5 separate regions of the Homo sapiens genome follow, and all the other regions are linked to region 1. The links come from fine-mapping of genetic effects on plasma protein levels. A gene starts in region 1. Each other region holds a variant in brackets. All regions are shown on one strand. Distances are between the middles of the regions. Region 1 holds the start of PCDH9 (protocadherin 9). Region 2 has its middle 560 kb from the start of LINC02342. Region 3 has its middle 120 kb from the start of LINC01052. Region 4 has its middle 200 kb from the start of LINC00364. Region 5 overlaps PCDH9 (protocadherin 9).

The links. PIP is the posterior inclusion probability: the model's chance that the variant is causal. Protein levels are from antibody-based Olink assays in UK Biobank. Linkage for the fine-mapping came from a reference panel and not from the study's own genotypes, which makes the PIPs less certain.
Region 2: its variant is fine-mapped to the plasma level of the PCDH9 protein (UK Biobank, PIP above 0.99).
Region 3: its variant is fine-mapped to the plasma level of the PCDH9 protein (UK Biobank, PIP above 0.99).
Region 4: its variant is fine-mapped to the plasma level of the PCDH9 protein (UK Biobank, PIP above 0.99).
Region 5: its variant is fine-mapped to the plasma level of the PCDH9 protein (UK Biobank, PIP above 0.99).

What each region holds. Positions count from the first base shown.
Region 1 is chr13:67,227,664-67,232,772 of GRCh38, reverse strand. It overlaps PCDH9 (protocadherin 9), which reads left to right and starts at 2,437. Exons shown (of 5, transcript NM_203487.3): 1 at 2,437-2,993; 2 at 4,198-5,109. The coding sequence starts at 4,333. RefSeq lists a silencer at 2,027-2,166.
Region 2 is chr13:68,316,313-68,321,421 of GRCh38, reverse strand. No RefSeq gene overlaps it. Among named protein-coding and RNA genes, the nearest start is that of LINC02342, 560 kb to the left of the region's middle. The variant C/T (reference allele first, on the strand shown) is at 2,996.
Region 3 is chr13:65,742,009-65,747,117 of GRCh38, reverse strand. No RefSeq gene overlaps it. Among named protein-coding and RNA genes, the nearest start is that of LINC01052, 120 kb to the left of the region's middle. The variant G/C (reference allele first, on the strand shown) is at 2,673.
Region 4 is chr13:67,566,425-67,571,533 of GRCh38, reverse strand. No RefSeq gene overlaps it. Among named protein-coding and RNA genes, the nearest start is that of LINC00364, 200 kb to the right of the region's middle. The variant C/T (reference allele first, on the strand shown) is at 2,350.
Region 5 is chr13:67,136,326-67,141,434 of GRCh38, reverse strand. All of the region lies in intron 2 of PCDH9 (protocadherin 9), which reads left to right. Among named protein-coding and RNA genes, the nearest start is that of PCDH9, 91 kb to the left of the region's middle. The variant G/A (reference allele first, on the strand shown) is at 1,934.

The DNA.
Region 1 (5,109 bases):
TCTCTTCTCTAACCTTCATCTTGTGTTCAAACTAAGATTTCATTTATGAGCAGGAGGTAATAATGGGTTCTGCCAACACGTGAAGCTATCCTTAGCAAAGAGAAACAACTCCGTTTAATAATGATGTTAAATAATTATTGCTAAGCTATGTGTTGCGACTACAACATGACTTTGAAATGACTACGGTATGATTAGAATAAGAATATGATATAACTGTGGTGCTTATGAAATGAACTGGAAAGTGGCTGTGCTGCTATGTTTATTGTAAATGTATCACAATGATGGTTCATTTATTTAAAAACAGTGCAGTGCATAAAATAGGTGACAATTGGAACAATGTACTAGCTTTAATTGTAGATTTTGTGAATGGCAAAATGATCGTTTACTGTGGTAAGATAAAAGAATCATCCTTTCATTCACTGACATTATTCTGTGAGGCAATATTTTTCTTTTCACTTTGGGATACTTGTAAGTCCTTTCTATTCTTGAATTTTATATATTCTAATCATACAAAATATTACTATAATAAAAGTTGCTTTGCTATTTAAAAAATATCAGTCTATTATCTGCAAGGAAAGTATTTTATATTTTACATATAAGGGATTAATGGATTTTACAGTGGGCTTTTAGACACTGCAGTTGAACTGTGAATATTAACTCAGAAAAGTTTGAATTAAAAAGAGCTTACAATTTCATGTTGGAAAATTGTGATGTCAAATTAGTTGGTTAAATCATGTCATTATTTATTCAATATATGGCTTAGTAAGCTTGATTGGTGTTTTTTTTTTTTTTTACTTTTCATTTAAACGTCTAAAAACAAATGTTACTTAAAAAAGAAAAAAAGCAAACAAAACTATTGTACTCAAAAACAAGGGGTAATCTCCAACACGCCCTCAGTCAAGAGCTTAAGTATGTCAAGAGCCTTTAATGCCTAGGCAGCCCATTATAGAATGGGGAACACACAGGTTTAAAATAAATGCCCTTTATTCTTCCTGTAAGTTAGACCAAGTTATTCAATCATGTACTAAGACCTTCTCTGACAACCTTTATAGGTCATTCAGAAAATAAATTTTTGTTCCAAGTGAACTGTTCCTATGTTAATGCTTCAAACTTTACTCAGGTATCAGGCGTTAAGTACAAGCCATTACACAAACCTTTGTGGTTTACTGACTTTGAAAGATCAATCAAATATATTACTAGATAGTGCTTTGGGGGTCAGTATTTGAGAAATAAAGCTGTATTTTTTGGGGAGTCATTCCATCCAGTTCCCGTATGAAAACGAGAAACTTGTGAGGATTTAGTACAGAGCTGGAGTCGGAGAAATGAAATGCACGGGAAAAGACGAAAATCACAGGAAAGAAAGTTGGAATCAGCAGAAAGTGCCTAGGGGAAAGGAAGTGTTCCACAGCTTGGGAAACAGCTGCCTGGGACTCCTTCCAGCCCCTCGGAAGCAAAGTTCGCAGTGAGGTGGGCTGGAAGCGGGTTTTGCAGCAGCCGCGAGTCCGGGCTCAGGTTTCCAGGCGCGGCTGGAGCAGAAGTGCAGGGACCGCCACGATCCACCGCCGCGGCCGGTCCCGCTCCGCTAGAGGAGACTTCGCACGCGCAGCCGACTGGCCCGGGCTGACCGAGGGGACCCAGACGCTGCCACTTTCTCTTTCCAAGGCAGTTTCCGTGGCTCTGCATGTAGGAAGTGCTCCGATTAATTTTCTTTCCGGTCTCCGCAGAGATTCCAAATTCTGCGGTCCCCACCTTTCGCTGTACTCCCTCTCCGCCCTTCTTTCCAATGTCCCTGCCAGCAAAAGCCTCTATTTGCAGCACCGGGCATGTTGTCCGTTTAACGCGCTCCGGGGATCTGCTGGCTCGTGCTCCCAACCCAGGGGTGGCTATACGTCTCGCGCCTCTGTTCCTGGGTAGACTCCCCCATCTGTGCATTTTGGCCCCTTCACTTAGCAAAGAGATGTGCGAAGTGTGCGCCTGGAGACGAGCCGCCTCGGTGACCCCCATCCGCCCGCAGCGGTGGCCCTGGTTCCCCGGATCCGCGCCCGCGCCCTGCGGGTCTCCCGCGCCGCCCTTGCCCGCCGGACCACCCGGGCTCAGAGGGTCGCTCGCTTTCAGCGCCTGCGAGCGCCGCTTCCGCCCGGGCCTGGGGAGCGCCAGCGCGTCCCTCCCACGCCGGACCCTGCAGAGCATGCTCAGTGCACCTCATGGAACCCGGCTCTCCTGGGGCCAGGATCAGATTTCCGGGTTTTCGCTGCTGCCGAGGGGGCGCGGAGGAGGGGAGGCTGGGAGACAGTCAGCGCCTTGTTCCGCGCTCCCTCCCTCGCGCCGGGCTGCGGCCGCCCGCGCCGCAAGATGCAGGCCAATCAGAGCCCGGGGGCGGGGCCTGGGCAGTCACGCCCTCCCTCTGGGCTTATTGAGAGTTATATCAAGAAATTCAGTTCAGAGAGAGGAGAGGGAGAAGGAGAGAGGGGCAGAGGGGAAGGGAGAGAGGGAGAGCACGCGAGACGGAAAGGAGCGCCTCAGAGTCTCTGAAGCACGCAAGAGATAACCGATTAGGAATTTTTCGGGCAACTGTCACCCGGATAGCTGTCAGAGAATCATCATCACCGCAACTCTGACGTTTCCTACAAGAAGTTAGAGACTTAAGCAGTATTGGCATCGGATGGAAATGGTATGCATGCTGCTGTGGAAAATATCCCTGAGCTGAAGAAGTGCAACTATGTGTTGTGTGTGCTAAATGCCCAGAAGAACCCAGACCCAGTGGGTAAGAGAGACGAAATGTGGAGAGAATGACTAACGACAAATCCGTGAATTTGTTCTCTGGAGTTGCTAATTTGCCAGCCCGAAGCAACACATTTTACAAGGAGGAAACATTTTGCTGCTTCTGATTTCTCCCCAAACTGGTGCTACCAGATGCATGGCTTTCTATGTGTTGGAACAAATCATTCCTAACTGCAGCATACTGGGAAAGGGGAAAGGTTGAGGCAACTAACGTAAGTGTAAAGTTTCGCATGCACAATTGTAAATTCTGTGTTTAGATGTGTCCTCAGTGTAGGCGAAAGATGCTTGTAATTGGGTAGACGGTTGGGGCAGAGCTCACCTACTCGGCTGTATCTGCATCCCTACCTGCATCACTCTGCCGGAACTAATCGCGGGCATCAGCTACTGTGCAGCCTAATGCAGATAAGATTAGAGCCTGAGAACTGACCAGTCCTACTCAAGTAGGTAGCTGCCTGGAGCCTTGCACCCATTTAAACTGCAGTTATCTAAGCAGAAGCCTTTTTACCTGCATGATTGGGTTGCAGTATTTATGTGTGGCAAATGTTACTAATATTCTAACCAGAGATCAGGATTAAGAAATTGCATTTTTTTTCTCTTTTATGTTCAGTAGAAAATATTGTGATGTTACATGGGAATGTTAGCTGCGTTTCACTTATATCTCGGCACTCTCTTCCACCTCTAGGAAAATGAATCCTATATTATTATACATTTTTAAAAGTTTTAATGTGTTTATGAATCCTAATGAGGATAATTTGTCAATATGGAGAAAGGAGAGCAAGCTGTGGGCAAGAAATCTGAAGTCTTGTTGTTGTGCTTTTAGGCAATGAGGATGTGTAGAGGCCGGTGACTATTGCTTCTGATGCCGCTGCAGCGGCATGTCCGGATGCTCGTTTCCCAGTAAGATTGTATTAGAAGGCAGTTGAAGAACTGGGAGGAAAGAAAAAGATAGCCTTTTTAGAAAAGATAGGTGACTCAGTGGGGCAGAGAAGAAAACACATTTGACATGTGACAAAGCAATTAGCAGGAACCGTAGCTAAATACTTAGTGTTTTTCACTTGCACCTGAAAAGACTGAGGGAGGTAGGTTAGAGGCTAGGAGGAGGGTGAGACAGGGGGAGGGGAAGAGGAGAACAAGAATGCATGTTTTGAATTAAACAGTATTCTGAAAAACAACGTGCGTGAATATAGGTAAAAATAGCAGCTGTCCTTAATTCAAAAGTAGAAAATTTTATTTTCTCCCGGCAAATGCAACCAGCAGGAGATATTTAGTGTTTTTCTCCACAGAGTAAACTTGCAAACAGTGGCAGAGCAAACTGCCATGTTTACTAATGTTCAGGGGAAAATGTGTGGTGATATTTTGTGACGGTGTGTTTTTATTTACTGAAGAATAATATTGTCTATACAATTGTGTTGACAGCGGCTGTCTCCAAATAAGTGATGAGATATAATGCATCCTCCAGTCCATGCACGCTTCCTCTTGCAATTTGTGCATCATTCCTCAGTGGAAACCTTTAAACCCTAAAATCCAGGAAAAGAAAATAAATACATTATCATGGACCTGAGGGATTTTTACCTGTTGGCTGCTCTGATTGCCTGTTTAAGGCTGGATTCCGCAATAGCTCAAGAACTTATTTACACTATTAGAGAGGAATTGCCTGAAAATGTGCCCATAGGAAACATACCAAAGGATCTGAACATTTCTCACATCAATGCTGCCACAGGGACCAGCGCCAGCCTTGTCTACAGACTGGTTTCTAAAGCTGGGGATGCCCCTTTGGTGAAAGTTTCCAGCAGCACTGGGGAAATTTTCACAACCTCCAACAGAATAGACAGAGAAAAACTCTGTGCTGGCGCCTCATATGCTGAGGAGAATGAGTGTTTCTTTGAACTTGAGGTGGTGATCCTCCCCAATGATTTCTTCAGGCTGATCAAAATAAAAATAATTGTCAAGGATACCAATGATAATGCCCCCATGTTTCCATCTCCTGTCATCAATATTTCCATTCCAGAAAACACTTTGATCAACAGCCGCTTTCCAATTCCATCAGCAACAGATCCTGACACAGGCTTCAATGGTGTACAGCATTATGAATTGTTAAATGGGCAGAGTGTTTTTGGACTGGATATCGTGGAAACTCCAGAGGGAGAGAAGTGGCCACAACTGATTGTTCAGCAAAACTTGGATAGAGAACAGAAAGATACCTATGTGATGAAAATCAAAGTAGAGGATGGAGGCACTCCACAGAAATCCAGTACGGCCATACTGCAGGTCACAGTAAGTGATGTAAATGACAACAGGCCAGTGTTTAAAGAGGGTCAAGTGGAGGTG
Region 2 (5,109 bases), 1.1 Mb before region 1:
ACTCCTAGGAACAAACATGGAGAGAGTAGACATCTTGCACCTCCTCCCTATACCCTGATACAGATACAACAGTGGTTTTTCTTGCTGGGGGCTGGCACATTTACACTTCGAGAAAGCATTTTTCATACTTTTTGTGGTGGCTTCACCCCTGCTGAAAGTGAGTCCATGCTGCTTGGGCTTATATGAAGGGTGTGGCCCAATTCCCCTTCTCTACACAAAGCAGCAGCATCCCTGCAATGGAGGATGGATACCTCACAGAGCTGCCTGCTCTGGACTGGAGGAAGAGGCTCTGTCCCATGCGCATTTTAGTGGTAGCCATAAAAGAAGAATATCTATTACCCTCACCTGCACTGTGGCTGGGAAATAAAGGAATAATTCTTTATAAACTGGTTGTCACAAGCCCTGCGATGGGACACAATAGGGAAGCAGATTGCATTTCTGCTGGCTCAGGAAAAGAAGCCAGCTCCTGGCTTCTTCCCTTGAGAGCTCAGAGCAACCCAAAATTATCTTTTTCTGCCACCCTCCCAATGGTGCTTCCATTTATCATCAGCCTAAGGGTGAGCCAGCTCTTAGTCCAAAGCACCATCAACTGTACTGCAGCCTGAACTGTACCCCCAAATAAAAACCCTACTGCCAGAAAAGCTTAGTGCTACTCCATGAATAAGCTTCTTGAGACTTCTATACATTCAGCCCTATAGGAGTTTGTATATCCGTGCATATGTCCAATATGTTGCTGCAATAAGCAACATCTGAGAAAACACTGTACAAAAGCTATCCACAACCCACAGAACATGTACAGATCCTTAGCCAACTAAACATATCCAAACATGAAGACAAATAATCATATGCAACATATATCACAGTTACAACCTCAAAGGAAGAAAGAATTTTAAAATATATAAAAGTTACATCCAAATGATAGCAAATTCAAAAATAAGAAGCAACATTTTCCTCAGATGAGAAGGAATAGCATAAGAACTCTGGCAGTACAAAGAGCCAGAGTATGTTGACACCCCCAGATGATCACACTAGTTTTATAGCAATGTATCCTAACTAACCTGAAAAGTCTGAAATGACAGACAGGAAATTCAAAATATGGATTGTGAAGATACTCAATGAGATCCAACATAAAGTTGAAATCTAACATAAAGAAACAAGAAAAGTGATTCAGAATGTGAAGGACAAGATAGCTATATTTGACCAAAAAAATAGAAATTCTGATATTGAACACTTCCTTAAATTTTTTTCAAAATAGAGCTGGAAGCTTTAACAATAGGCTGGACCAAAAAGAATGAATTTCAGAGCTTGAAGACCACTCTTACAAATTAACTCCATCAGAAAAATTAAAAAATAAAAAATAAAAAATAAACAAGACTTGGAGGAATATGGGATTATATAAAATGACCAACTCTATGGTTTATTGGTGTTCCTGAATGAGAAGAAAAAATAGTAAGCAATTTGGAAAACATATTTGAGGAAATAAGTCAGTAAAACATCCCTAACCTTGCTAGACAGGTTAACATCCCAACAGAAGAAATTCAGAGAACATCCGCAAGATACTATATAAAATGACCATCCTCAAGGCATATAATCATCAGACTATCCAAGATGTGTGTGAGACAAACATCTCTTAAAGGCTAGAGAAAAGAGCCAAATTGCCTTTAAAGGAAATACCATCAGACAAACAGCATATTTCTCAGCAGAAACTTTGCAAGCCAAAACAGATTGTGGATCTATTTTTAGCCCTTTTAAGGAAAAAAACTTGCCAGCAAAAAATGTCATATGCTGCCAAACTAAATTTCAAAAGCAAAGGAGAAATAAAATCTTTCCCAGACAAGCAAATGCTAAAAGAATTTGTCACCACCGGACCAGCCTTACAAGAAGGGCTCAAAGCAGTTCTAAACATGGAAACAATAGAATAACACCACATAAGAACATAAGAGCACGTAAATACAAAGCTTACAAATCCTATATAGCAATTACACAATTCAGATCACAAAGCAACTAACAACACTCTGAAAGGTACAAGATCTCACATATAAATATTAATATTGAATGTAAATGGGCTAAATATTCTACTTAAAGCCATAGAGTGGTGAATTAGTTTTTTTTTTGTTGTTTGTTTTGTTTGTTTGTTTGATTTTAAATGGCCCGACCTTCTGCTGCATTTGAAAGACCCATCTCATGTGTAATGATAGCCACAGGCTCAAAGGAAAGGGATGGATAAAGATCTATTATACAAATGGAAAACAAAAAAGAGCAGCTGTAGCTATTTGCTGTATTAGATAAAACAGACTTTAAAACAACAACAGTAAAAAGAAAAAACGAAGACAAAGAAGGGCATTTACAATGATAAAGGTTTGAATTGAACAAGATTTAATCAACTTAAAAATATACATGACCAACATTGGAGTACAAAGATTTCTAAAACAAATACTATTAGAACTAAGAAAAGAGATACACATCCATACAATAATAGTGAGGAACTTCAACACTCTGCTGATGTCTCTAGACACATCATCAAGGCAGAAAACTAACAAACTCTGGATTTAACTGGACTCTTGACCAGTTGGATCTAATAGGCATCTACAGAATACTCCACCCAATTACCACAGAACATACATTTTTCTCATCTGCACAAGAAACACTCTAAAATAGATCACATGCTTGGTCATAGAGCAAGTCTCAATAAATTTAAAAAAATCACAAACATAGCAAGCATATTCTTGGACCACAGCAGAATAAAATTAGAAATCAATACCTAGAAGAACTCTCAAAACCTCAACTATATGGAAACTAAATAACTTGCTACTGAATGATTTTTGAGTAAATGACAAAATTAAGATAGAAATAAAAAACGCTTTTGAAACAAATAAAAATAGAACATGTCAAAACTACTGAAACACAGCAAAAGCAGTGTTAATGTAGCATTAATGCCTACATTAAAAATATAGAAATATCTCAAATTAACAACCTAACATTGCACCTAAAGGAA[C/T]TAGAAAAACAAGAACAAACCAAACCCAAAGGTAGCAGAAGAAAATACAAATTCAGAGCTGAACAAAGTAAAATTGAGACCAAAAATAAAACTTCCAAAAAATCAACAGAATGAAAAGTTTGTTCATTGAAAGAATAAACAAAATTGATATACTGCTAGTTAGATTAACCAAGAAAATACTGAGAAGATTTAAATAAGCAGAATTAGGAATGACAAAGTTAAAATTATAACTGATAGCACAGAAATACACAAAAAATCCTCAAAGACTACTATGAATATTTCTAGGCATAAAAACTAGAAAACCCAAAGAAATGACGACATTTCAGGGAATATGCCACTCTTAACATTGAACCAAGAAGAAACGGAAATCCTGAGAAGATCAATAATGAGTTACTAAATTGAAACAATAATAACCATTTACCAACCCCCAAAAAAAGCCCTGGACTAGACAAATTCAGAGCAAAATTCTACCAGATGCATAAAGAGCTGGTATCAATCTTGCTGAAACTATTCCAAAAAATCAAGGGATTGCTCCTTAAATCATTCAACAAAACCAGTATCATCCTGATACTAACATCTGCCAAGGAGAAAACAAAAGAGGAATGCTACAGGCTAATATCCCTGATGAACATAGACACAAAAATTCTCAACAAAATACTACCAAGCCAAATCCAGTAGCACATGAAAAAAGATAATTTATCATGAGCAAGTGGGATGCAAGGGTGATTCAACATACACAAATCAGTAAATGTGATTCACCACATAAACATAATTCAAAACAAAAACCATGTGATGATCAAACTATCCACAACATCCCCTTTACCTAAAGCCTAATATAGAGACAGTACCTAACTCTCTTCAATTTCATGAAGGCCAAGGGAGGTGAAGAAACTACAGAACACAAGTTTGAAGCTAGAAGAGGTTATTTCATGAGGCTTAAAGAAACAAGCCATCTCCATAACATAAAATGCAACGTTAAGCAGCAAGTGCTTATGGAAAAACTACAGCAAATTATTCAGAAGAATTAGTTAAGATAATTGATGAAGGTGGCTAAACTAATCAACAGGTTTTCAATACAGACAAAACAGCCTTCTATTGGAAGCAAACAGCATCTAGGACATTCATGGCTAAAAGGAAGTCACTGCCTCATTTCAAATCTCCAAAGACAGGCGAATTCTCTTGTTTGGAGCTAATGAAACTGGTGACATTACCAATGCTCCTTTACCATTCTGAAAATCTTCAGGCCCTTAAACATGCTAAATCTACTCTGCCTGTGCTCTGTAAATAGTACAACAAAACATAGATGAAAACATACCTGTTTACAGCATGGTTTACTGAAATTTTAAGCCCACTGTTGAGCTCTACCGCTCAGACAGAAATGTTCCTTTCAAAATATTACTGTTCATTGACAATGCACCTGGTTACCAGGAGCTCTGATGCAGATGTATAAGGAGATTAATGTCGTTTTCATGCCTGCCAACACAACATCCATTCTGTAGGCCATGGGTCAAGAAGTAATTTTGACTTTTGCATCTTAATATTTAAGAAATAGAGTTTGTAAGTCTATACCTTCCATAGACAGTGATTCCTCTGACAGATCTCAGCAAAGTGAATTGAAAAACTTTTGGAAATAATTCACCATTCTAGATAACATTAGGAATATTTGTGATTCATAGAAATGTTAACAGGAGTTTAGAAGAAGTTGATTACAATCCTCATGGATGACTTTAGGGGTTCAAAATTAAAGTGAAGAAAATAACTGCAGAGGTAGTGGAAATAGTGAGAGAACTAGAATTAGAATTGAAACCTGAAGATGTGACTGAATTGCTGTAATCTCATGATCAAACTTGAATGGATAAAAGTTACTTCTAATCAATGAGCAAAGAAAGTAGTTTCTTGAATTGAAATCTACTCCTGGTGAAGATGCTGTGAACATTGTTGAAGTGACAAGACATAATTCAGAATATTATATACATTTTATTGATAAAGCATTTGCACAGTATGAAATGATTGACTCCAATTTTGAAAAAGTGCTACTGTGCATAATATGTTATCCAACAGCATTGCATCCTACAGAGAAATCTTTCAGGAAAGGAAGAATCAATTCAAGTGAC
Region 3 (5,109 bases), 1.5 Mb after region 1:
GAAAAAAGATCTAAAGAAAGACTAAATAAATTAATGGATCTACTTGACTTGCTCATAATGGCAAGATAATTCTTAAAACTTTAGTTCTATTTTGGTTTGGAATTCTTTATTTCCAGGACATTAGGTATTACTCAAGAAAATATATTGCAATATACTGCAATAAACAATTAAAGCTTTTCCACCTCATACTAAATTTTGTACTCACACATGTCAAATCTGCGATTCAGTTGTCTGGTTTGGAAAATAGAGAGACATCTTGGACAAAGGCAGATATCCTAGCAGTTATTAGGTTTATTTTTTGGGGGGTGGGGGTGGTGTATGTGTGTGTGTGTATGTACTGCCCATTGGAATTTTGAGCAATAGCAGAAATGAGTGAGTGAATGCGAGTGTTTATGTGACTGTGTCTGCAGATGCTGTTGCAGCCCAGCGATGTTTAATTGTTACTGTGGTTTGGACATGATTTGTCCCCACCAGAACTCACATTAAAATTTGATTCACAATGTGAAGTGTTGGAAAGTGGGGCCTACTGGGAAGTATTTGGGTCATGGGGGTAGATCCCTCATAAATAAATTAATGACCTCCCTCCGGAATTAATGAGTTGTTTCTCTTACTGCAATGGATTAGTTTCCTTGAGAATGTGTTGTTAAAAATCTGGCTTCTTGGATTTCTCACTCTTGCTTCCTCTCTTGCAAAATAGTCTCTGCATATACCAGCTTCCCTTCCACCTTCCACCGTAAGTTGAAACAGCATGAGGCCCTCACCAGATGCAGCTGCCTATCCTTGAGCCTTCCAGCTACCAGAATCATGAGCCAAATAAACCTCTTTTTAAAAAATAAATTACCCAGCATCAGGTACTCTGTTACAACAACATAAAATGGACTAAGACAACTGTGAATATGCTACCAGTCCAGTCTTAGACCTGTCAATGGTACTTGATAGACTACACACATCTATGAAAACTTTTCTGGAATGTGCCTTTTCACTGGATCAAATACATAGTAATGTAAAATCTCTTCCTCTTAAGAGTGTTTGAGCTCTTCATTTGAAGCTGGATGTAAATTATTTGGTCTTTTGTTAAATAAATATCAGAAAGCATTATAGGTAAGAAAGATGCTTCCTAATAATCAGGAGAAAACCTTCTACCTGTTGTGATGTTTATAACTCTTTTTCTTTTACAAAGAATCCCAATCAACCTAGCTTAAGCAAAATTTGTATCTACTTACCAGAATGTATAAGTTTAACGAAGAATACAGTGTTAGGAGTTCAGCTTTACCTCTGGTTTGGATGAGAACTGTTGATAGAGCACAGTAGAAACTAAAAAAAAAAGAGATCTGTCTTGAGTGTTCCTTGAAATATCTCTACATTTCAGCTCTACTCTCTTTGGGAAAGCTAGCTTTTATACTTTCCAGACTACATTTGAAAATGGCCCTCATCGTGGATCATGCCGGCAGGAGATCGAGACCATCCTGGCTAACACGGTGAAACCCTGCCTCTATTAAAAATACAAAAAATTAGCCGAGTGTGGTGGCGCACCTGTAGTCCCAGCTGCTTGGGAGGCTGAGGCAGGAGAATCACTTGAACCTGGGAGGCAGAGCTTGCAGTGAACCGAGATTCCGCTACTGCTCTCCAGCCTGGGCAACAGAGTGAGACTCTGTCACAACAAAAGAAAAAAAAAAAGAAAATAGCCCTCATCTACAGGTGCTGACTTATTTTCTTCATTCAAGTAAATTCCAAAGCCAAATTTTCAAATGAGGCATTTTAATTGGCTAATCTTCATCAAGGTGCCTTTCTAATGGAATAACACTGTCATATTAAGTGACCACATAGTTTTGGCCTGCAGCAGAGTCAAGCTTGCTTCTACTGCTTTCCTGTAAACAAGGGACCTGGGGAAAGAGCAATCCCCAGTATGTGGTGTGTTGACCTTCTAGGGGAATACTACAGTTGAAATCGTTCTATACTATGATATAGGAAATCAGTTCTCAAACTTTAGTCTGCATTAGAATGACCTGAAGGGCTTTTTTTAATAAACAGATTTCTGGGCCTTATTCCCAGAATTTCTGATTCAATATGTCTGGGATAAAATCCAAAATGTGCATTTTTAAAAAGCTGCCAGAGAATTTTCTTGGTGCTGTTGGAGTCCCACACACTTGAGAACGAGTGATACAGTGCAGTGAGGACACACAAGCTAGAAGCATGTCTCAGCTTTGTGTCTTGCAATGTAACAGTAGTCCATGAAATTAAGGGTGACTAAGTCAACTGAGTTGAACTTTTTCAGTCAATTAATCCCCAACTATTTTTGAAAACAACATGCAATTCCTATGGCCTGTCTGATTTCTGAGTTACATTCAGAAACTGACACTTATAGAGGAACATGTACCATATTTGTTTTATGTTTTAGAATTAACCAGTGGCTGGGCCCTTTCTTTCTCCACAATTATTTTCCAACTCATAACTCTATTGCAACATTTTTCTTTTGATCTGATTTTCTAATAGATAGCAGAAATCTATTCTCAGGGACTTCTGGTTTTACCTCTGACTTATAAAAAGTTTGGAAGTCAATACTCCCATTCTTACAAAAAGAAAGAGCTGGACTTTCTAGAAAACAATTGCTTTTCTTTGACGCATCAGAGATTTGAAGTCACAGGGCAAACAACTACACCAAAATCTAGAGA[G/C]AGGTGAATCCACAGTCATAATCAGGCTCCTACCTGGAGCAGAAGCTGCTGGAGCCATAAACTAGTAGGAACATTTAAATTGCAATTTTTACAAATTATTGTAAGCTATGTGGACTAGCAGGAGAATGAGAAACTCCTGGAGTTGCACCATATGGTGGAAACATTTTTTTTTTGTGAGCTTTGCCATCAAGAAAATATCAACAAGTATCCTGTAAATGTCATTGGGTTTGAAAGGAGAAGCAAAAGGGCGTAGAACATAAGGAATATTTGAAATATTAATGAAAAATAACTTTATAAATTAATTATAGACACCAAACTACACTTCAGGAAGCTCAGAAAAAATAAGCATGATAAATTTAAAAAGAAAACCAAAACAGGCATACAGTATTCAAACTATAAAAAAGCAAATACAAAGTGAAAATTGTATAAAGCTGAGAGAGGGGTTTCCCACAGAAGAAACAGGATAAAAATTACAGTGTATTTCTTATCAGAAACTATACACACAAGAAAAAAAGTGAACTGAAATATTTCATGTTGAAAGAAAAATACCCAACAATCTAGAATTCAATATCCAGTAATATTATTCTTTAAAAGTACAGAAGAAATAGATGTCTGAGACAAACAAATATGGAGGAAATTTATTGCCAGCAGAACTGGCTTGTTAGAAATGTCAAAACAAGTTTTTCAGGTAGAAAAACAAATCTAAAGTAGGAAACATATCTATGTAAAGAAAGAAAAAGCATTGTGGAAAGAATAAATGAAGATGAAACAATGTATTTTACTTTTCTTATACTCAAATGATTTAAAAGATAATTATTTGTTTAGAGCAATAATAATAATAATGTATTAGGTAATTATATCACAGGAATAAATGAAATAAATAATAGCAATGTCATAAAGAATGGGAGAAATGAATTGGGAATATATTGCTATAAATTTTCTCCACTGCAGATAAAATGGCATAGGGTTATTTGAAGGTGGATTAAGGTTAATTTAAAAATACATTGTAAACTCTAGACAACAACCAAAAAAATTCCTAAAAAGTAGTCCAATTGATGAGAGGGAACAAAATGAAATCATGTAAAATGTTCAATTAAACCAGAGAAGCATAAAAGGAAGAGAAAAAAAGACACAAAGAACAGATGCCAGGAATAGAAAATAGTTATTAATACAAACATGATAAATATCAATCTAATTATATCATAGTAACATTAACTATATCTCTAAATGTATCAATTGAAATCAGATTTTCAGAGTGGATAAAATACAAACGCAATTATGTACTGTCTTCAGTAAACCCTCCTTAATATAAGATCTCAGAGATGTTAAAAGCTGTAAGTTGTAACATGCTAAAATTCAAAAGAAAGTTCCAGTAGCAGTGTTAATTTCTGACAAAGACAACTTTAGAACATGGAAGCCTATGAGAAAAGAAGAAGAGTATTATGTACAATAAAGAGGTTAAGTTTCCCATAAAATATAAAAATCCCATATATATATATATGGCTCTAACAAAAATTACTAAGGCTGTAGGTGACCTGAACAAGATTTTTAACCAATTTAAATAGCTTTTATAATACACTCTATCCTACAGTGGCAGAATACACATTCTTCTGAAGCTCACATGAAACATTCAATAAAATAAACCTCATCTGATCCATAAAGCATGCCATAATATATTTAAAAGGATAGGAAACATAAGATATATTCTCAAACCAAAATGGAATTATATTGGAAACTAATAAATTAAGACAGGTGGAAAAAATATGTATTAGCATATTAAATAACACACTGCTAAATAACCCAGAGATCGAAGAGAAGGTCTCAAGAAAAATTTTAAAAATATTTTGAATTTGATGAAAATAAAAGTAAAACTTATCAACTTTTATAAGAGCAAAAACAATGCTGGGATGAAAATCTATATTGTTAATTTCATCTATTAGAAAAGATCTAAAATTGATTATCTAAACTTCCACCTTAGGGAACCAGATAAAGAAAATAAAATTAAACAAAAAACACATGATATAATAAAATTAGAGCAGAAATAAATAAAATAGATAACAGGAAAATAATAGAGAAAATTAATAAAAACAAAAACTTATTCTTTGAGAAATTCAATAAAACTGATAAATATTTATCCCAGGCTATCAGAGAAAAAAGAAAGAAGACATAACCAAAGTAAGAAATGAAAAGGGGTTATCATATGGATTCTTTAGACATTAAAAATGTTATAAAAGTACAAGACTAACAACTCTATGCCCAGACATTTGATAACGTTTTGTTATTAAGGAATAAACGAATTCTTGGAAATACCTAAACTGTCAAAATATACTCAAGAGGAAACAGATAATAGTCATATCCCTATTAAAATGTATTTAATTATTAATTATCAAAAAAGAGAGATCCAAGGGTCCAGATGGTTTCACAGGTGAATTTTAGC
Region 4 (5,109 bases), 340 kb before region 1:
AACTTCCCTAATTTACATGTTAAAAATGAGAAATTTTGCCGGCACAATATTGACAGTTCTCGATTAAAGAAGATTAATTTTGGAGGGCTTATTTCATTGCTATAGATGTGCATGCTTATACATGTGTACATATTTATGCACACACATGCAAAATGATTCTGTATTTAATAGCATATTTGGAAAGTCAGCTATAGTTATTTCCATTGGCTGAATTAGATAATGTAAATCTTAACCAAAGTCTGGCTCATGCTACGTGATATTAGAAAATTATACATAATTTAATGTAATATAGAATAATGACTAGCAAATCTTCAGATTAGAATATTTGATTTCTTTTTTTATGTGTTATCTTTACACTGAGTCCAATCTTTGTTCTCTTCCAGACTCTGAAAATTTCTCTCTCTCTCTCTCTCTCTCACACACACACACAATTTGCATATGGCATATATTGATAAAGGGAGCAAAAGAATCTTTGAAACTTTGCTTTGATGTTCTTGAAATGATGGTGGAAGAGTCCATGATCCAATGAAGATTTCTGATATCAATTGTGATTGGAGGAACCTTACTGAGATGAGTTCAGTTTTCTCAAAAATGAAGTTGGTGTGATCATCGCGATATGACAGTCTTCAGTCTATCTGCAGCATTGAAGGGTCAGGGAATGGTGAATGGTATGACATGTAGAGCTTCCTGAAACTCAATGAATTTCCAAGGATTAAGTTGAAAGGAAGCTAAACTACTTGATTAGTAAAATCAAAACAATACAGGACTGGCAAATAGTCCTGTTTCAACTTGATTCACAACCATAAAAAAATCACATAATTGTCAATATTTATCAGCCTCAGAGTCTACCTACTGTCTACCTTGATAGACAGATTTATTTTCAGGAATTTTTTATAAAATGATATGCGTCTACTAACATTTCTCACATTTCCCACAGATAAATGTGTGGGAAATTAAAAAAAATCAAGATTTTGAGAAAACTGGCTTGATTCCGAGCTAATTATAATTACTAGGAACTCATAATATTATTGTGAATGCCAATTAGAGTAGAGCATTTTAGAGTAAAACCTTTGACTCTTGATCCTTATAATCTTCAATCATTTTTTCAGGTCCTAAAAATATAACAAAAATTTTATTTTCTAACAATACTTTCTTAGCCTATACAGAATATTGTAACATAAAGAAACAGCTGGATATCAATGGAACCCATCCCAGCCAAATCACCATTATCATTATTAGTGTCATTATTACATCATCATTACTGAGTTAAATATAAAAGGATATTTCAGTCATTAGGGGCTAGGAAGTCACAGGTACAATAATCTCTATGATAGTCCAACTTAATTCTCCAGTTCCCTTAAAAAAAAAAGTTGGATATTCTTAGAAAATCATCTAAAATGATGATGCAAATTTGACTTTTGTTACAAATATAACTGATAAAATGGTATGGTAGACAAAATAATGGTTTCTCAAAGTTTTCCATGCTCCAATCCCCAGAATTTGTGAAAGTATTCGATTATATTGCAAACAGAACTTTGCAGATGTAATTAAGTTAATGACCTTGGTATGGGAGGGACATCCTGGATTATCTAGGTAGGCCCACAATAACAACATAGATCCTTAAAAGTAGAGAATTTTCCCAGTTGTGGAAGGAAAAGAGATGAAAAGACAGAAGCAAGGTTAGAGAAACACTATGTTGCTGGCCTTGTAAATGTGAAAGGGGACTATGAACTTTTCCATCTCTAGAGGGTAGAAAAGGCGAAGAAGTGAATTCTCCTCTAGAGCTTTCAGAAAGCAACATAGCCCTGCTGGCAGTTGATTTTGGCCCAGTGACACTAATTTTGAACTTCAGACCTATGGAAATATAATATGATAACTTTGTGTTGTTTTACATCACTAAGTTTGTTATACCAGCAAATGGGAAAGTGCCATATATGGCTATATCAACATAGCCTCTGATATCTGAAATGCCGCTATTGATGGGGATAGCACATTCTATATGGTAAATGTTAAAATCCCCATTTGATTTTCTTGCAGTAAAGTAAGAACAGATTTTACTCTACCGCCTCAGTGACATGTTAGTCCTTGCATTTCATGCCTCCTTGTGGTCCACATGGTCCGCAATGCCCTCATCATCACACAGAACATCATTCTGGTCCATCATCCTAATGCTATCATGCTTGTAGGACCTAGAGAGCAATAAGGAAAAAAAAAATCTGATATTTTTAACACCCATGTTTGTCAGAGAAAATATATCCCATCAAAAAAGGACCTGCTACATCAGTAAAATTATTGGTAGAAAAATGACACAGTAAAATAGGGTATACAAATAGCTGCTTATCAGTTCTT[C/T]GAAGGAAGAAGCTCAATGCTGAGGACATAGAGGCAGGCCCTAAAATATTGCCTGATGAAAATTATTTTCTTTATAACTCAAATTACTTTCAAATACAGTCCTATATAAGAGAAAGGCCTTGCACCATTCCATGTTTCAGAGTACAACTCTGAAATTGCAGCTTCGTGACCTGGTAAATTGTGTAAAGTTCAAACACTGGCAGATTACCGAGTTGGGAAGTCTCAAACAGGAAACTTGTAAAAGAAAAACCGAAGAGTTTTGATGAAGATCATACATATATTAGCAATAATCTTTTCTACTATTGAAAATAGCTCTGGAATTATCTTAGGACTTTAGTGGAAACTGAATATCAAACCATTTGGGAATTATGTGATCATGTTCTTTAAGCTGCTCATTCCAAAATAATGCTATCTAACAAACATTGTCATAATGTTAGGTAATTCGTGTAATACTCAATCATTATAAAAAGATCACAGCTTGCATAAGGTCTGAAGGTACTAACGCATTTCATATGTGTAAGTTTACTCTCTGATATGCATACGCCTTCAAGGTGGTTTCTTCATGGTGAATTTACATCAATGGCTCAACATCCATGTTTAAGGATGATAAAATTGAAATGTCTTTTTAATTATGACTGGTCGAGCATATTGGATAATTATTTTGGATTTTGTTTGCTTTCCCTTAAAGTCGGAGTCTTACAGATTGATTGGATCACTCTAAGATTTGCCATATGCTCTGAATTGATGACATGTATTTGGTATTTTCTGTCCCACTCTTAATGCCTAGGTCAGCACTCTTAATTTTAGACAATAATATACTGCAGCTATTTTAAGAATAGAGATTATAACAGGTTAGGAGTCAATTTACAAAGTAATTGAAAAGCTGGAGAAACTAGATCCTTCCATGAACAACTCACCAAAAAACACTGCACACACAACTGAAATGTCCGTAGCTTCCACTGTTGCCACCAGACCCACGTACCCCTGCTATCACCCTTAACAGCTACATTGACTTAATGTGTCCTAAATTTTTTTCATGTAATTAAGTTCCACATCATGGTATTCCTAGTGGCAACAGAGGCTTGGGAATTTAACTTTATTATTATTCTTATTCCGAATTTGAAGAATAGAATTTTTTATTATTTACTTTATTATCATTATTTATTTTGTGTTTGAACGGTGAAAATGTAGGAACCCAATGTCCAGGTCTTGATTTCTAGAAATCATTCTCCAAAAAAAGAAACCAGGGCTCCTTGGAGAAAGCAGCCTCTAGGCCTGGGATAGGAAAATACAAGAGGACCCTGGAGCATCTTGTAGTGCCAGGAAAGAAGGAAGTACATCCCTGGAGGGAGGATGAAGGCAAACAGAGATTACACAAAGAATTTTCAATGGCCAACAATTTAAATAATGTAGTATTGGATTATAACTCAAAATATAAAATGTGTTTACATGAGTCCATAGTAAGAACGATTAAATAAATAGATAAATAAATAAATAAATAAATGGAGAAAAGGGAAAAATCTCTCTTACAAAAAAAATTCAAATGTTAGATATAGATACTTTCGCTTTTAGGAGGTGAAGCTGAATTCCCCTCCCTCTGAGTGTAGATTGAATTTAATGGCTTGTTTCCAAAAAAAAAAAAAAAAAACCACACACACACACACACACACACAGAATGAAATGAAAAAAATACGAACTTTACAGTGGAGAAATCTGGCAAATACTACCTAAACCAAGGGATCAATGCTAGCATAACCAGTAATGAGTTATATTGATAACATGAGATATCATGAGAAAAATGGCAGACAGACAACATTTGGAGACATTCTGCAAAATATTTGACCAATATTCTTCAAAACTGTTAATGTCACAAGATATAAGTAAAGACTGAAGAATTGTGACAGGCAAGGGGAGAATACAGAGAGATCGTGCCTAAGTGTGGTATCTTGAATTGTATTGAACCATAAAAGAACATTAGTGGAAAGCTTGCTAAATCTTAATAACCTGTGCAGTTTAGTTGATAGTAGTAAGCTGTGATAATTTCTTAGTTTTGACAAATGTTCCATGGTTAATATTATATATATATACACACACTATATATATTATATATGTAATATATTATATATGATATTAATCTATAACATTTTACATTAACATTAAGAGAAACTGATTGCAAGTTCTATCGTAACTGTACGCTTTCAACTTTTCAAAATAAAACTAAAATTATTTCAAAACAAAACATTTATTTAAAAATGTAGAAGTCTTCAAAAATTTTGTGCTGCTTGTACACTTCTTAAATATCAAATATTATAGATTGATTTAGAGATTCCCTATTTCTCCTCAAGAAGCTTGAATATCATCATCTTAATTCAAATAATTGTACAAGTGTTCCTCCCATTCATTCATTCATTATTTAAGAAAGCCTAATTTTATTCATGCTAGTAAAAAAGCCTTTTTAATAACAGGTTTATTTACTGATTACATTAATACTGATTGCTATTATACTATTAATATTACTGATTCACTAATACTGATATATACTAATAAGTGGTACTTATCTATAATTTTCCCTTTGTGTGTGTGTCTTTGTGGGTGTGTGCTTTGCCTGATTGTCATAGCAGGTTATAAAACTCTCAAAGAAACAGGATGTTTCCTTTGTTTTTTATGCATAGAAATTTTTTATTCCCTGAAAATCTAGGAATATTTGCCTATAAGATGTTCTGATCCAAATGCCCTTTTGGGCTATAAATATTTGAACAC
Region 5 (5,109 bases), 91 kb after region 1:
AGAGAGAGAGAGAGAGAGAAGATCTTACTATATTGCCCAGGCTGGTCTTGAACTCCTGGGGTCAAGTGATCCTCCTGCTTCAGCCTCCCAAAATGCTGGGATTATAGGCATGAGCCACCACACTCGGCCCCATTTCCCTTTCTTTCTTCTTCCCACTACTAATCTTTCATGCCGTCTGCATTTCAACTCATTTCACTTTTTCCACTTACTCATAACACTTAGCCCACTGTATTGCATATGTGCTCTTCTCTCGTTTTATTTTTGTCTATCGTAAGGCTTTTTGGAATTCCAAACAAAATGATAAAGCCATTCTAAACTCTTTAGGATGCTAATTGTCATTAATCACATATTTTTATTTTCTTTTCTACATTTTTAGGCGTCTAGTTCCTTATCTCTTTTGATGGCCCAAGTTGTGCTGAAAAGATAGCTTCCAATAATACATACAATAGCAAGAGAGTAAATATTACAGAAAAAAATGAGGGGGAAAAAGCAAAAGAAAGAAAAATTAGGATCATAAAACTGACCGAGGAAAGAATATATTCACTGAAGTACTGTGCAGACACACAGTGTTCACTTTATAATTGACTTTAAACTTTCTAACAGCCAAGATGATGAGAGAAATGTGCTGCACATGGCTCATAGTGGCCAGGGCATGCCTTTATCAAAATAAGAACAAACTGTTTCTTATCCTAAAAAAAGAGAAGCATTTCTCCTGAAGGTACAAATAAAGAGATCAGTAGAGTGGAGGAGGCACATTGGAATTAGCTGGGGTTTTTAAAGAAATACCAGGTATAGGTTCCATCCCAGATCAATTAAATCAGGATCTTTGTGGGTGGACACCTAGAATTATTACTTTCTATAAAGCACTGAAGGTAATTATTAAGGGCCCTGAGGTTTGAAAACACCTGACCTGCTCCATACCTCTAAAAAGAGGACTGGTTTCTAGACTTGAAGCAGCTAAATACCATTTGTATGTACTTGTCATTATCATTCTCTTGGGTTTTCTGATTTCTAAATCAAAGCACTTGAATTAGTTACTTTAAAGGGTCTTTCAAATATTGCAATATTTTTCTCTTAATTTTTCCACTGGCAAACTTATCTTACCTTAGCTCTAACAGGTTCTGTGCTGTAAAATTTCCAGAAAAAGCTAAGCTATGCATGGATTGTTACCTGTAGCCATCATAATTAATGGTCAGTTCTGGCAATGTGAGCCAGACACTTTGTATGACTAAATGCTGGACCCCAGGAGGTACATTTAGTATTTCAGACAATAATTGACTAAAAGTGTTCTTGTCATAAATAAGTAGCCGCTGATGCTAGCAAGCATGCTCTTTTCTGATTTAACCCTTCCTTAAACTCCAAGAATAGTGTTGTTTTAAAAAATAACACAATGGGCGGGGGGGGGGGGGTGATCAAAAAATCACATTTTCAGTAGCAGAAGGGAATGCAGCTGATGGAATTATCCTATGAAGTTGTATTTCAGAGAAAGAAAACTATTCTATCCTGTCACAAAAATAATTGCAAGCACCAAAAAAAGCGTACTTGAAAATATTTCAGTTGGCTTAATTATTAACTGTTTATCATTTGTGACCAAATGTCAGCTGATGTGAACTGCTTTGGACTTAATGAAAACATAATGACTTTATTTCAAGGGTTCATATGCAGAGTCAGATTGGGTACTGCAGAGCAGATGTCGTGCTATGGTGAAACCTGAACCTATTATGATTGCCTCTCAACTGGATTGGGTAACCAGATGTACAAGTCGTGCACTTTGAAAAGCAAAACTGCTGATTATCAGGACACTTCTAATTTTAAAGTAGTATATTTAGTATAATAGTAGTATATTTGAGATATGTTCGAAATCTTACAATAGTGCATTTCAGTAGCCACTGCAAACTCAAGAAATAGCAGATTACAAGTAAGTTCCTAAATG[G/A]TTTCATTTTAGTCACAGAGAATTGAGAGAAAAAGAGATGAAGTCGGATAATTTTGTATTATCACTCTGTTAGTTTCATTGGTAACTTCTGTGCTGGAATCAAATGGGGAATTTGCTCTGATTGCAATATCCAACTGTGCTGAATCTCTGAGCGATTAAGACTTGGTAATAGCGGTTAAGAGTCAATAAGGCTGCTCACAGATTCAAATGGCAATGTTGAGCAGTCAGAACAAAACCCAAATTATTTTAATGAAGCAAATTTGATTCACACATAGTGTGACAGCCGATGTCAGAAGAAAGTCTTCAGTTAATGTTTCAGATGGTTATGTTATTACTTGGGTGATTTGACAGAATTCACCATGGCTTATGCAAAATAAGACATGGCAGATGTCAGGGCAGAAGAAGGTGCACATGTGATAGGATTGACTAGAGTTTTGCCCTTGAGAATTGAACGGAGTGGCATTTCCTTCCTGATACAGGTATTATCTTACTGCTCTGGATCCTTACTATACAAGATTCATTTTCTCAATCACATAGACATACATACTGTTGATATTGTTTTACATTATTTTACCTTAAACCATAACTGTTCCACTTTGTTTCCTCGGATAATTTTGTGTGGCTTGATCAAAGTATTTACTTACTCTCATATGTATAGGCTATTTTCAATAATATATTAACATATTAGCAATAAGTTCAGTAGTTCTGTTAACAGTGGAGGGTATCCAGGTTCTTGGTGTCTTGAACAAAGAATTGGACAAAATGCACAAACAAAGCAAGGACAAAGGGATTTACTAAAAATGAAAATACCCTCCACAATGCGGGCGCAGGCCTGAGCATAGGAGCTCAAAAGGCCCCATTACAGAATTTTTGGGAGTTTAAATACCCCCTAGAGGATTCCATTGGTGACTCGGGGTACGCCCTATGTAAATGGAGAGGATGAAGTAAAGTCACAAAGTCGTTCACTTGGCCTATGCCCTCTGGAGCAGATATTTCCTGTCATAGCTGAAGTGTGAATGGGCCTTATGTTCCCTGCCTCCAGACCCTATTTTCCTTCCTGCTTCAGTTCAGATCAACAGGTGGCACAAACTGTAAATAAAGCATGAACAAACAAAACCCGTTATAATAATATTTTTAATATTTCCTGCAATTTACATAAGTCACATGAATAATGGGCACCCTGTATTGTGTGCTTATGGTGTGCTAGATAATATTCTAAACAGGCCAGATATTTCAGCCTGTTTGGTTCTCACAACACTTCAATGAAATGGGGATGTGTTCTTTTTGCCATTTTGTATAGGAGGACATTGAGGATCAATGAGACAGAGTACTTTGCTCAGAAAATTTCAAATAAATAGTAAAGATAGAATTCAAAACCACTTCATAATATATAGAAGTCGGTGAATTTTTTTTTAATTTAGCTAAAGTGGACTTCTTCCCAGTCTGCTAAAAATTCTTATAAATACCACTTTAGGTAAAAAATCTCTTTCTCTCTGTGTCATAGAACATGATTTATGCATGACTACTGAAAATAAGACTGGAATCAGATTGTTTATGGGCATTCCTTTCAGCTTCAAAAATTTTTAGAAATTTTTTACATAGAATTGAACATATTTCCTCTCCTTTTTTGGACATTTTTGAGATGTGCTTTTTTTGGTAAAAGCCAAGTAATCAATTATGGACAAAGCAAATCAAATAATCCCTGTGGCTGATGACATTTTTAGGCCAAGCAACTTTTTTAGTAGCTGAAAGAGACCACCAGAGAAGGAAGAATTTCCTTTTATTTCTGTATATAAATAGGACATTAGTAGCTTTAGCAGACTCTGTAACAATAGCACTACCTCTCACTATTGCAGACAGAGCTGAAAAAAATGTGGAGAGGTTAAATGTTCTAAAATGTATTATAAAATTACATGTCTCAGAAGCTGAAAGCCAATTTCCATTACAACACAGCTCTGCTGTGTGTAGAAGTTGAGTCATCTCTATTTTGGTAAGTGTTCTTTATCACCAAAGATAATTCATGCTATATTTTCATCTTTATGATGGAGGCACGAGGATCACCCCAAAGTTTTTACCTACGAAATTGCACTTGACAAAGCAGGCTGAGGAAATAGTGACAGATACTCTGGTACATTCCGTTGAGCTTACAGTTTGAGGTTTCATACAAACGATATGATTTAAATAGTTTACCACCCAGTTATCTTCCTTATATTACTACCTGAATATGACTTGGCTCACCCGTATCAAGCCCTGGCTCTTCACAGGAATGACAAAATATTTACCGAACAAAATGATTAGATTAGAAGTCCCAGCTTCTCACATTGCTACACAGCAACACTGCAGGATAAATAAATATAGATAATTTTCTTTTTTTTTATTATTATACTTTAAGTTCTAGGGTACATGTGCACAATGTGCAGGTTTGCTACATATGTATACATGTGCCATGTTTGTGTGCTGCACCCATTAACTCATCATTTACATAATGATTTATGAAAATTATCTACAAGAGATAAACCTAATGTAGATAATTTTCATAAATCATTTTATAGAAACTTTTATTCATAAACACGTTGTGTAAAATGCAGACACAGAGAAACTAGAGCCACAGATATTTTGATGTCTATTACTATTACTATTCTTATAAACTAACCTTTGTAAACTATCAAATTAATGTCCAAGTGATTGATTCAGACTGGAATTTGAGTCTCCATTTCATATATAACATAACTATTATTATTAACTAACATTTGTAAAATTTGGAAAATATAAAATTATTTACATTTGTAAAATATAAAATTAAAATCCAAGTGATTGATTCAGACAGCAATTTCAGTCTCCATTTCAAAGAGATTAGACCATAATATCTGCCTGAACTACACCATTTATATAGAGTTTAGCTAGCCTATATTTCCAGTGAGTACAATTTAATACAGCATATTGAATTCTCAAAGTATAAACTCTCCCAAATTTTCTTACTTTAGCATTATATGATGCAACAAACTCAAAGGACCACCTGCAGGTCTAGACTATAATGTCATGTGGAACACAGGCACACATGAAGAGAAACAGGCACTGCAGTGAAGGGTTGATTCTTCCCCACCTTATCACTTACACAGTCATGCGTCACTTGACAATAGGATAAGTTCTGAGAAATGTGTTGTTAGGCAATTTTG